3 linked regions of the Homo sapiens genome follow. The protein of the gene in region 2 purifies or fractionates together with the protein of the main gene of each other region. This does not show direct contact. Each region holds a gene or a part of one and is shown on either strand. Other genes may lie near its edges. The genes, in order: CIBAR1, PER2 and REXO5.

Region 1 (3,650 bases), on a different chromosome or scaffold from region 2:
CTGGGAAACCTGAGACATTTTCTTGTCATTTTGCTCACCAGGTGCTTTTCTACTTTTACTATTACTGTGCAGCTTAACAGTTTTTAATGTGTTTTGAGTTTAGATTCTGAGTCTTATCAATTTCTAGTGATTAGCCTTTTATTTATAGGTTAAAATGTTAAACGTTCTAATTTAAAATTTTAATAATTTTCAATAGGTTGAAAGACTTGAAGCCAAAGTAGTTGAACCCTTGAAAACTTATGGGACCATTGTGAAAATGAAACGGGTAAGTAAATCCATTTTCTCACTTAACTGTGAGTTACTCTGGCAAAGACTATGAGGTTTCCAATTGTTTTTTTAAATAAGAAATACAAAGTAGTGGCCAAGAGTGGTGGCTCATGCCTGTAATCCCAACACTTTGGGAGGTCGAGGCGGGCGGATCACGAGGTCAGGAGTTTGAGACCAGCCTGGCCAACATAGTGAAACCCCGTCTCTACTAAAAATAAAAAAAATTAGCTGGGCATGGTGGCATGCACCTGTAATCCCAGCTACTCAGGAGGCCGAGGCAAGAAAATCGCTTGAACCCAGGAGGCAGAGGTTGCAGTGAGCTGAGATAGCGCCACTGCACTCCAGCACAGGCGACAGTGTGAGACTCTGTCTCAAAAAAAAAAAAAGAAAAGAAATACAAAGTAGTATATAGTCATTCTTTTTACTCTGAAAGATCACTTAGATCTTTAAGAATAATGAAATAGTTTTAATGAGCTTATTAAGTATACTGTAGCAATATAGACATTATTATGGAAACTTTAAAATAATTATGAAAAATATATGGACAGAAATTGCTTTACTATATGAATATAAGTTTTTCTTTAAAGCGATAGCATTTAGACTTTTAAAATGTGTGAGAGAGTTCTATTTTTAAAAGTTACTTTATTGATAATTTACATCAGCAGTCCCCAACCATTTTGGCACCAGGGACCGGTTTTGTGGAAGACAATTTTTCTTTAGTTCACAATAGGGTTTGCACTCCTATGAGAATCTGATGCTGCCTCTGATCTAACAAGAGGCAGAGCTCAGGCCTTAATGCTAGCTCGCCCACCACTCACCTGCTGTGCTGGCCCAGTTCCTAATAGGCCTGGGGGTTGGGAGCCCTTGATTTATGTGCGATAAAATTCTTCCATTTTAAGTGATCATTGAGTTTTGGACAAATGTTTATACCCATGTAACCACTACCGCAATCAAAATTACACATTTATATGCATATATCTATTATGGTTAATAGTTTTGCACTGAAATTGTGTCATTATTTTGAGAGAATATTAAACACATTCTCACATACATAGACACTAATTATGTAATACTTGTAATTCCTGTGGTAATGGTACCAGGATCACACAAGAAGTATTCTTCCATTCTTAAAACAATTCTTAAAAGAATTCTTCCATTCTTAAAACTGAATTTTCTTAAGTCAGACATTTTTACTAACAAAAAAATGCCAATTTGCAGGATGACCTCAAAGCAACACTCACAGCAAGGAATCGAGAAGCTAAGCAATTAACTCAGTTAGAAAGAACACGTCAGCGAAACCCATCTGATCGACATGTTATTGTATCCTTTGAATTTGGGTCTTTAAAAAAATGTTTAAGGTATGGAGTACAAAAGTAAATGTATATAGAAATTGTGCATTTTTACTTTTAAACGAGTAGAGAATTTGAATATAAAGATTGAAAAGAAATGCATTTAGGAATTCTCACTATAGAAATTTTAAAGAGGTTACGCCACCTAATTCAAATCCCCTTATATTGTTTTACACAGTAGACTTTGCAAACGAACAAACAAAAAATTCAGATGTTTTTATAAACAGTAAATTCAAATTTCTGAATTTTATTTTCACATGGTGATGACTAAATATTAATTCTACAATTAAAGATCTATTGTTAATCCTAATATATCAGTGTCCTCTATGCCCTGCTTTGAGAAAAGGAAAGAAAATTTTCCCATTTAATTTCCTTCATCTTTTAGAAATAAAACAACTATGTGACATCATGACTTCCAGCCAGTTAACCTCAGGAGTCTTAAGAGTATAATTAAGATCCAAGTTGGACACAAACCTAGAAAGGACTGTCTACTATAACAAGGTTCTTCTGTTAAACATGACTTTCTTAAACTACAATGTGCCTTGTTCGTGAGTAAACAAAAGCATACAAAATAGTGCCTAATTGCCAGCAACTGAGATGGGTAGGACTGTGTAGAAAGCACTAACATCTGGCTGGGCGTGTTGGCTCGTGCCTGTAATTCCAGCACTTTGGGAGGCCGAGGCAGGCAGATCATGAGGTCAGGAGTTCGAGACCAGCCTGGCCAACATAGTGAAACCCTGTCTTTACTAAAAATACAAAAATTAGCCAGGCATGGTAGTACACACCTGTAGTCCCAGCTACTTGGGAGGCTGAGGCAAGAGAATCGCTTGAACGTGGGAGATGGAGGTTGTGGTGAGCTGAGATCACACCACTGCACTCCAGCCTGGAAAACAAAGCGAGACTATCTCAAAAAAAAAAAAAGAAAAAGAGAAAGAAAGCACTAACATCCCTACTGCCTCTTTTTCCCATTCCTTCTTCTATATGTCTCCTTCCTGCTTCCTTAAGGTTGTTACTGCCCAGCTCAGCCAGAAACCACATGAGGAGTGGCTCTTTGAGAGCATTTGAGGTTCCAGAACACCTCCATTCCTGAGGGGAGTCTCTTGAGCAGCGATTTGGGGCTGCGCCAGTTGCTTGGTCCTTCTTCCTTTGGACCAAAGGTACAGAAGCCCAACTTTGTACTAAACAAAAATGGGCAGCCATAGGGCTGGGAGTGCCCACTGGAGACTGGGACAGAAATATCTAGATAGTCATAGTGGCATAAGATCCGCAAATGGAGATTATAGAATCTGTGTTTTAAGCAAGTCAGACAAACCAGAGAATGCTGGAAAATTTATGACTGATAACTAGAGATCAAGGCAGAGGCTATGGGGCAGGGTGGGTGGGGGGGTTCACCAGTGTTTAAGAATTAAGCTAGGGATGAAAATTTTTTGTTTTGTTTTGTTCTTTGTGGCCTGGAGTTGGGGAGGTGGTGATACATGAAGACATCTGGAATCCTGAGTAGTTGGCAAGATTGAATCAGGAGTACTGGTGTCTACAGTAAACACAGAAATGAATCTATTCCTAAGACAAACATTTTTCTGACTTGGATGCTGTGCTGTAAACACTGCTGTGGAAGGGAGATAATCTTAGAGCACAGATGAAGCAGGTCTTTGGGTTCACATGGTGAGGAAATAAATATAACCTAAGAGATTACTGCCACAGGTGAGTCAGTGTGCTCACTGGGTAAGATCTGCAACTTGTGTATTTTGACAACCTGAGACCAAAACATGAAGGACAATCTACATACAAATGTAGTCAATATAAATATACAAATATTCGATCATAGTATTATGGCATATTTCCCAGGATAAACTCTTAAAATTCATCTATGTAGAAGTATGTTTAAGTTTGATATGTAAGATAAAATGGAGTCCCTCTGATAGAGAGGATAGGGAAAAGAAGAATCCCATGGCTCTGCCTGCTCACCCCCCAAGTAGGGCTCCAGGTGACTCCTGAACAAGCTTCCTATAATGCAGTGTGAGAAATACCAATCTG
Region 2 (3,650 bases):
TTAGCCAGGCATCATGGTGCATGCCTGTAATCCCAGCTACTTGGGAGGCTGAGGCAGGAGAATGGCTTGTACCTGGCAGGCGGAGGTTGCAGTGAGCCAAGATTGCATCACTGCACTCCAGCCTGGGTGACAGAGCGAGACTCCATCTCAAAAAAGAAAAAAGAAAGAAACAGGGTATCCCGGATTATGGTTGGCTCCTGACTGTCGGAAAGCCCCTCCCCACAGGCCTGCAGAAGGGCTGCCTGGCTGCAGGCAAGAGCCCCTCACCAAGTGTGCCCTGCAGCTGCCAAGCTGCTGCGCCTCCCTGCAGAGGCCTCAGGATTTAAGTGTGTAACTGCTCCCATTTCAGAACTTTCTCTTTTCCACTATTCTTCTATGAATAAACATTGGGGACAAATCACCCCATGCCTGGGCCAGAGCATCTGTGGGATGGGATGGGATGGGTTGTGTGCACCCTGGTGTGGAAGCTGTATGGGCACTTGGGTGTCGGTTTCTCATCTGCACAGTGCATTGTAATGACACACTAATGTTTGTTCCCCCTTCCTCTCATGAAGAGGCAGAGCCGCCCTCCAGGGTGAACAGCCGCACGGGAGTAGGTACGCACCTGACCTCGCTGGCACTGCCGGGCAAGGCAGAGAGTGTGGCGTCGCTCACCAGCCAGTGCAGCTACAGCAGCACCATCGTCCATGTGGGAGACAAGAAGCCGCAGCCGGAGTTAGGTATGACTATGGGCTCTTGGATCAGAGAGCAGTTTGATTTTTAACCATGAAAACAAGAAGTTTGCCATCTTAAATTTTTCTAAGTGCAGAAGAACTCCACCATAGCCCGATAGGGGGCGTTTCAGGAAATCCAGTTACGTAAAATGCAGGGTGGAGTGCGGCCAGCCAGGGCCCAGGCAGCAACCTGTCCAGGTCTCTGCTGCCCTGTGGTGCCCTCCAGTGGCAGTTGTCTGTTCTGGCATCAACGCAGGAGGGTTGATTGTGGTGCAAGATCTTATCCCCTTTAATTGGTGCGGAGAGCACTGGGAGCGAGGCCCCACCTCCCTCTTCCCTGGGCAGGCCTGGGGTTCTTTCCTCTGCCCAGCAGAAGGTGCGACCGTTAGCTCTCCCTGTTTGTGGACAGGAGCCAGTACAGGTGGTAAACAGATTTACAATGAGCGCATTGGTGGCTGAGTGTTCTTGTTCTTTAGAATATTATGATTAAAATGAATCCTGAATTTGTTCTTTACTAAGAAGAGGGAAATGATAAGGAAAAAGTGTATGTCCAAGATCCAGTCCCCAAGCCCTCCCTTTCAGGATGGTCAGTGGCCCTGCCTGTCCCTTGTCCTGTCTGCCCCATGGGCCCATAGGGTCCCATCTATCACCATGCCTGGTCCCAAACCCGGAAAGACTCAGCACGTTGATCCAAGTTTCTGGTGTTCTGAAAGCTAAGGACAGCCGAGGGATATCTTCAGCAGCAGAGCTGAAGCCCAAGGTTCCCCACGTTTCCGTTTGTTCAGCCCCAGGTTCCTGAGCACCTGGCTGTCAGGGCTGTCCTGCTCTGCTTCTTGCCTTTTGCCATGAACTTTCTCAGAAAGCTAAATGAAAACGCTGTGAGTCTCATCCTCATGCCACAGGCATCATGAAATTACTTTATACGTGAATGATTTGTCTTGTTCGTGAATATAGTGTGGCCTTAAAATAATAAACAGGGCACGTGTGGACCAGAGCCCTGGGTTCTTGTGTTACAGAGATGGTGGAAGATGCTGCGAGTGGGCCAGAATCCCTGGACTGCCTGGCGGGCCCTGCCCTGGCCTGTGGTCTCAGCCAAGAGAAGGAGCCCTTCAAGAAGCTGGGCCTCACCAAGGAGGTACTCGCTGCACACACACAGAAGGAGGAGCAGAGCTTCCTGCAGAAGTTCAAAGAAATAAGAAAACTCAGCATTTTCCAGTCCCACTGCCATTACTACTTGCAAGAAAGATCCAAGGGGCAGCCAAGTGAACGAAGTAAGTGATACCCGAATTAAAAGTGCGTTTTAAAAAACTTTATTCCTGTTGGTACTGAGTCCAGTGCTGGTTTCAAAATGTGAAATGTGTCCAGTTTCAGAAGCATTAACATATAAGACAGCTGTTGGAACTTCCCTGGCAACGCCATCTGTTTCTGTAGAACTTCCCACCGGGGGGGTGCTCTCGGGATGTCAGCTTGCATTCCCTGGGGAATAGTCCCAGGCTAGTGCCCGAGGTGGGAAGAACCATGGCAGGGCAGTGCTGCCATGTCCACATTTCTTGCCTGAGTAACCATGTGGGCAGGGGCCCCACCTGGACGGGACCTCCAGAGAATCAGCGAATTCAACCTCAAGATAGTGGGCATGTAGTGCTGGGCACATGAGGAAGGAGGGATGTACCATTTCTGGTGCCCTTCTCCCCAGGAGATGCACCCTCCTGACTGGGCCAGCCTCAGGGCTGGGCTTTGGACTCCAGAGTCAGGCAGAGTCCATGGTCATGGTGTGGGAAGCTGCTGTGTAGGCCAGGTGCCACTTGGGGGGTTGAAGGTCAAGGGATGAAGTAAAATAGATGAGCTTCTTCACCCCTTTCCTGGCCCAGAAGTCTGGCTCCTGATCCCCCAGTTCCTTCCCATACCCCCAGACACTTGTTAGAGATGGGGCCTCTTCCCTTCCCCCTGGGACGCTGGCACAGGGATCAGAGCCAGTGAGCCCAGGAAGCCACTCACCACAAGGACCCAGCTCCCCCGGGTCTCTGGGCAGACGCACCAAGGGAAATTTGTAAGAAATTAAGCCCACAGCTTCCTTGAGGATTATGTCTTCTCCACTCTTTCCTTTCTCTCCTTCTTCCCCAGATTCAAGAGTTACTGCCAGCCCATAGAGAACCTCTGTAGAAATTAGAAAAAGGTGTACTCCATGGCCATGAGCAGACCCACCCCATGGGACCAGCCTAGTGCAGAGTTCCCGCTCTTGCTTGCCCCCTAGACAACTCTGTAGCCTTATGCAGTGCACAGACTACAGAGCTGCCTAGGGCAGCCCTGCCAGACCCAGACATGACATCCCAGGAGCCCAGTGCTTTAGCCACTGTTCCCACCAGGGGACAGATTTCTTGTGAGAAGAACACCAGATAGAGAGGCTGAATTGCAAAACCTCCATTTACATAGGAGTTTGCCTTGGACTAGCCCATTTCCCTTCAGCACATCCCAAAGGCATGGGACTGCCTTGGCACAGCTGACAGATGTCCCAGACACCTGCTGCAAGAGCCCCAAGTCACTCCGCGTGATGTGAGAGGAAAACCAAAGTTCCCTGGATCCCCCTCCCACTCCCCAGGGAGGCCATGGGGACATACCCAGAGTCCCTCCTTTACCAATTGAGTCCCTCCATCTTCCTGAAGAATGCCTTACTCAGCAGCACTCGTTATTGCAGAGGAAGAATTTGGTTGCAAGGCAATGCTCCCCTCTGATCTTGCTCAGGCTGTTTGACAGGTGAAAGAGGAAACATCCCTCTTTAAGGAACAGTAGTGACAGTGCTTATAAATTGAAAAATAGAGGAGGTCAGTGGCTCTCCCGTTCAGATTTCACTAACCAATTTTTCCCCCAAATACTGGGGAACAGCAGAGACATGACAGCTTTTTAGTGTATTTATTTAACAAATAGAACTTTGTATTACCA
Region 3 (3,750 bases), on a different chromosome or scaffold from region 2:
ACATCTGTAGTCCCATCTAATTGGTGGAACTGAGGTGGGAGGATCACTTCAACCTGGGAGGCAAAAGTTGCAGTGAGCCAAATCCAGCCTGGGCAACAGAGGGAGACTCCACCTCAAAAAAAAAAAAAAAAAAAAAAATCACATCCCTAATCCCTCTCTCACATATTATAACTTATTTTTATCATTTGTCTCTGCCCACTAGAATATAAGACCTACTAGGGCAGTGAACTTGATTCACTGATGTACCCCAAGCACCTAGGTCAGTGCCCCAGCACATGGCAGACAATAAAAACCAATGAATAGCTGGGTGCAGTGGCTCATGCCTGTAAGAGGCAGAGACAGGAGGATCCTTGTCACACCACTGTAGTCCAGCCTGAGTCCAGCAGAGCAGAGACCCTGTCTCAAACACAAAAACAAACAAAAAAGCCCAATGAACGACTGAAGGGATGAATGAAGTATATTTAGTTCTCAGTAAATGGTAAGGATGATAGGGATAATCAGCCTTTTTATTCCCCTATTGCAGCGGTCCCCAACCGTTGGCACCAGGGACCGGTTTCGTGTTAGATAATCTTTCCACTGACTGGGAGAAGGGCTGGGGGGATGGTTTCGGGGTGATTCAAGTGCATTACATTTATCATTAGAGTCTCATAAGCAGCATGCCACCTAGGACCCTCGTATGCAAAGTTCACAATAGGGCTCACAATAGGTTTGGCACATTCCTATGAGAATCTAATGCCTAGGTGGAGCTCAGGGGGTAACGTTCTATCGGCCACCGCTCACCTCCTGCTGCTTTGTGGCCCGGTTCCTAACAGGCCAGCTGTGGACAGTGGGTTGGGGACCCCATGGACAGGCAGGTACTAGTCTGTGCACAGGGGGTTGGGGACCCCCGCCCTACTGGAATGTAAACTGCACGAGGGCAAGGAATTGTATTTTTGTGCCCCAGGATATCGATGAACATTCCTATTATGTACAGGCAGTTTTTTTTTTGTTTTGTTTTTTGTTTTTTTTTTTTAAGAGATGGGGTCCTTGCTATATTGCCCAGGCTGGTCTTGAATTCCTGGCCTCAAATGATGCTCCCGCCTTGGCCTCCCAAACTGCTGGGATTACAGGCGTGAGCCACTGCACCCGGCCCACCATCCCAGTTTTTTTTTTTTTTTTTTTTTTTCTGAGACGTGATTTCTTTCTTGTTGTCCAGGGTGGAGTGTAATGGCGTGGTCTTGGCTCATTGCAACCTCTGGTTCCTGGGTTCTAGCGATTCTCCTGCCTCAGCCTCCCAAGTAGGTGGGATTACAGTCACCCACTACCACGCCTGGCTAATTTTGTGTGTGTGTTTTTGGTAGAGACGGGGATTTCTCCATGTTGACAAGGCTGGTCTCGAACTCCTGACCTCGTGATCCGCCCGCCTCGGCCTCCCAAAGTGCTGGAATTACAGGCATGAGCCACCGCACTCGGCCGACTCACTATCCCAGTGACAGCCAATGACAGCCTTGTTGCAGGAAGGTGGTATTACACTCATTCCCATTTTAATGATCAGGGATCAGGTTCGGAGAGGCCAGGGCGGAGAGCCCGCCCGAATCCAGTGCCCCCGACGGCGGTTGGGCGAGGGTCCGGGAGCTCCAAACCGCCTAGGGCCGCCTGCTCGGGATCCCCGTTGCTCACCTTGGCCTCGGGCTGACTCTCCTCGAGATCCCAACCGGCTTTCATCGCCTCAGCTGCCCCGACCAGCTTATTTGGGGCCTGCCTGCTTTCCCTGACCTTCCTGGGGTGTCTCTCGGTCCCTTCCCTCTCTGGCTCCATGGCTGTGGAGAAAGATGAGGTAGAGCTGGGGAAACTCCAGCGCCCCTATTCCCCCGCGTGCCGCCTCCTAGCGGGAGAGCTACACGGGCTTGACAGCTTTCAACCTCCCTCGGATCCGCTTCTCAATTCAGTTTACCGAACTATCCCCGTTCCCCTAAAAAAGCGAAGGTGCCAACGATCTCCCCGTTCCGCGGACTGGACACCCGCGCCGCTCTAACCCAAACGGCTTTACCGTCCGCATCGGTTACCGGATTCTCAACGGTTCCCCAACGGCTACAACGGGCGTCTGCCTGGCAAAGAAGGAAGGTGCTGCCGAGCGGCTTCGCCGCCTAAAACCACTCCCCACGCCCCCTAGCCCGGGAAACGCAGAAGAGAAGACGGGCGGGGAGCAGAGGTTCTCCCCTCCTTAGCCACAGCTGCCAACAACAACCGCCCCTCAGCCTCGCGGGCTTTTTGAACGGACCGGAAGTAGAAGTCGAGCGACTTCCGGCAGCTGGACTTGGAAAAGCAAGGAGTGTCGGGAATGGCGACCAAGCGGCTCGCGCGGTACTCGAGGGAGTTCCGGGTCGGGGGCGGGTAGCTCCGGGTCCAGCGCTGGCGTTGGCCGCAGAGCAGGGCACGGCAGGTGGCATCTGCGGTGAGGGCCTCTATTCCCCGCAGCCCCGGCGTCTGCGACCTGCCCTCTCTGGCACGGTTGGAAAGGCGCCTCCCTGGACCTCGGTCTTCAGCCTTGGGCCACCTTCTACCCGAGGGTGACAGGAGCCCGAGGCGGACGAACCCTGGGGCCTTGACTGTGTGGCCTTGAGCCAGTGCCTGCCTATTTTAGGCCTTGGGAAACGACTGGACGTGACAGTGCCCTGCAGACTGGTTGGAGGTCTCAGGCAGGCCACACACTGAATCTGTCAAGGTGTTCAACCTGTTCGAAATGCTCGTTCCTCGGTGCTGTAAAGAAATAGAACTTAAACTTAAATTTAATTTATTTAGTAAGGCCATTTTTACTTCCTGCAGAAAGGGTACACTCGCCAGCAGTTTTGCCAGGAGAGTACACTGAACAAAGGAGACAGGGTCATTTATAACGTGGCGCGTCCACCCTACTGCTGTGTCCGGTTTCCTTTGGCTGGAACGGGACCTCACATTCTGTATTTGTCCCGACTGACTAGCAACATAGAACTTTTTAAAAGAGGCAAAGGCAGAGGAGAACAAAGGAAGAAGGAAGTAACTTGTGGAATGCTGAGAAAGGTAAAAACACTTTTAAGTAAGGAAGAGGAACAGGCTATGACCTAATGTTTGATTGGACCAGTATAAGCATGCCAGGGCAAATATTTAGGCTAAATTGTGGGAGCTAAGAACATAAAGTACATTGATTTCTTTATTATATCTAGCAGATATTTAAGAATGTTAGCACAGGTCTTTGAATAAATTTTGCTCTAAGAGAAGTTACTATTTATTCCTAATTAGACGGGGAAGGAAGTCTTTGAAGAGGAACCTCTACTTTTTACAAACCCATTTTCTAGTGATCTTTTTTTTTTTTTTTGAGACGGAGTTTTGTTGCCTAGGCTAGAGTGCAGTGGTGCGATCTCGGCTTACCATAACCTCTGCCTCCCGGGTTCAAGTCATTCTCCTGCCTCAGCCTCCCAAGTAGCTGGGATTACAGGCATGCACCACCACACCCAGCTAATTTTGTATTTTTAGTAGAAATGGGGTTTCTCTATGTTGGTCAGACTGTTCTCGAACTCCCGACCTCAGGTGATCCACCCGCCTCAACCTCCCAAAGTGCTGGGGTTACAGGTGTGAGCCACGGTGCCTGGCCTAGTGATCCTTTTAATTCACAATATGAATTATTGTGTCCTCCCTGATTCCTGGATGCGCTGTGCATATTTCTGATTACTAGAAAGATGTAATATAATAGCAAATAGCATGAGCTTCAGAATTGGACAGTCTTGGGTTCACATA

What was found.
Region 1: the proteins of PER2 (region 2) and CIBAR1 purify together in Homo sapiens (affinity purification with mass spectrometry; one large-scale study listed by BioGRID and IntAct). This does not show direct contact.
Region 3: the proteins of PER2 (region 2) and REXO5 purify together in Homo sapiens (affinity purification with mass spectrometry; one large-scale study listed by BioGRID and IntAct). This does not show direct contact.

The regions. Positions count from the first base shown.
Region 1 is NC_000008.11:93,703,424-93,707,073, forward strand, and holds part of CIBAR1 (CBY1-interacting BAR domain-containing protein 1), read left to right. Parts: intron 1-196; coding exon 197-265; intron 266-1,485; coding exon 1,486-1,587; coding exon of another isoform or gene 1,588-1,625; intron 1,626-2,001; coding exon of another isoform or gene 2,002-2,020; exon of another isoform or gene 2,021-2,612; intron 2,613-2,621; exon of another isoform or gene 2,622-2,773; intron 2,774-3,073; exon of another isoform or gene 3,074-3,650. UniProt on the Homo sapiens protein: Plays a critical role in regulating mitochondrial ultrastructure and function by maintaining the integrity of mitochondrial morphology, particularly the organization of cristae.
Region 2 is NC_000002.12:238,253,991-238,257,640, reverse strand, and holds part of PER2 (period circadian protein homolog 2), read left to right. Parts: intron 1-554; coding exon 555-719; intron 720-1,729; coding exon 1,730-1,984; intron 1,985-3,650. UniProt on the Homo sapiens protein: Transcriptional repressor which forms a core component of the circadian clock.
Region 3 is NC_000016.10:20,805,001-20,808,750, reverse strand, and holds the start of REXO5 (RNA exonuclease 5), read right to left. Parts: upstream 2,225-3,750; 5' UTR 2,046-2,224; exon of another isoform or gene 1,906-2,045; intron 1,800-1,905; 5' UTR 1,798-1,799; coding exon 1,660-1,797; intron 1-1,659. Other genes in the region: ERI2 (ERI1 exoribonuclease 2), read left to right, coding at 2,321-2,343.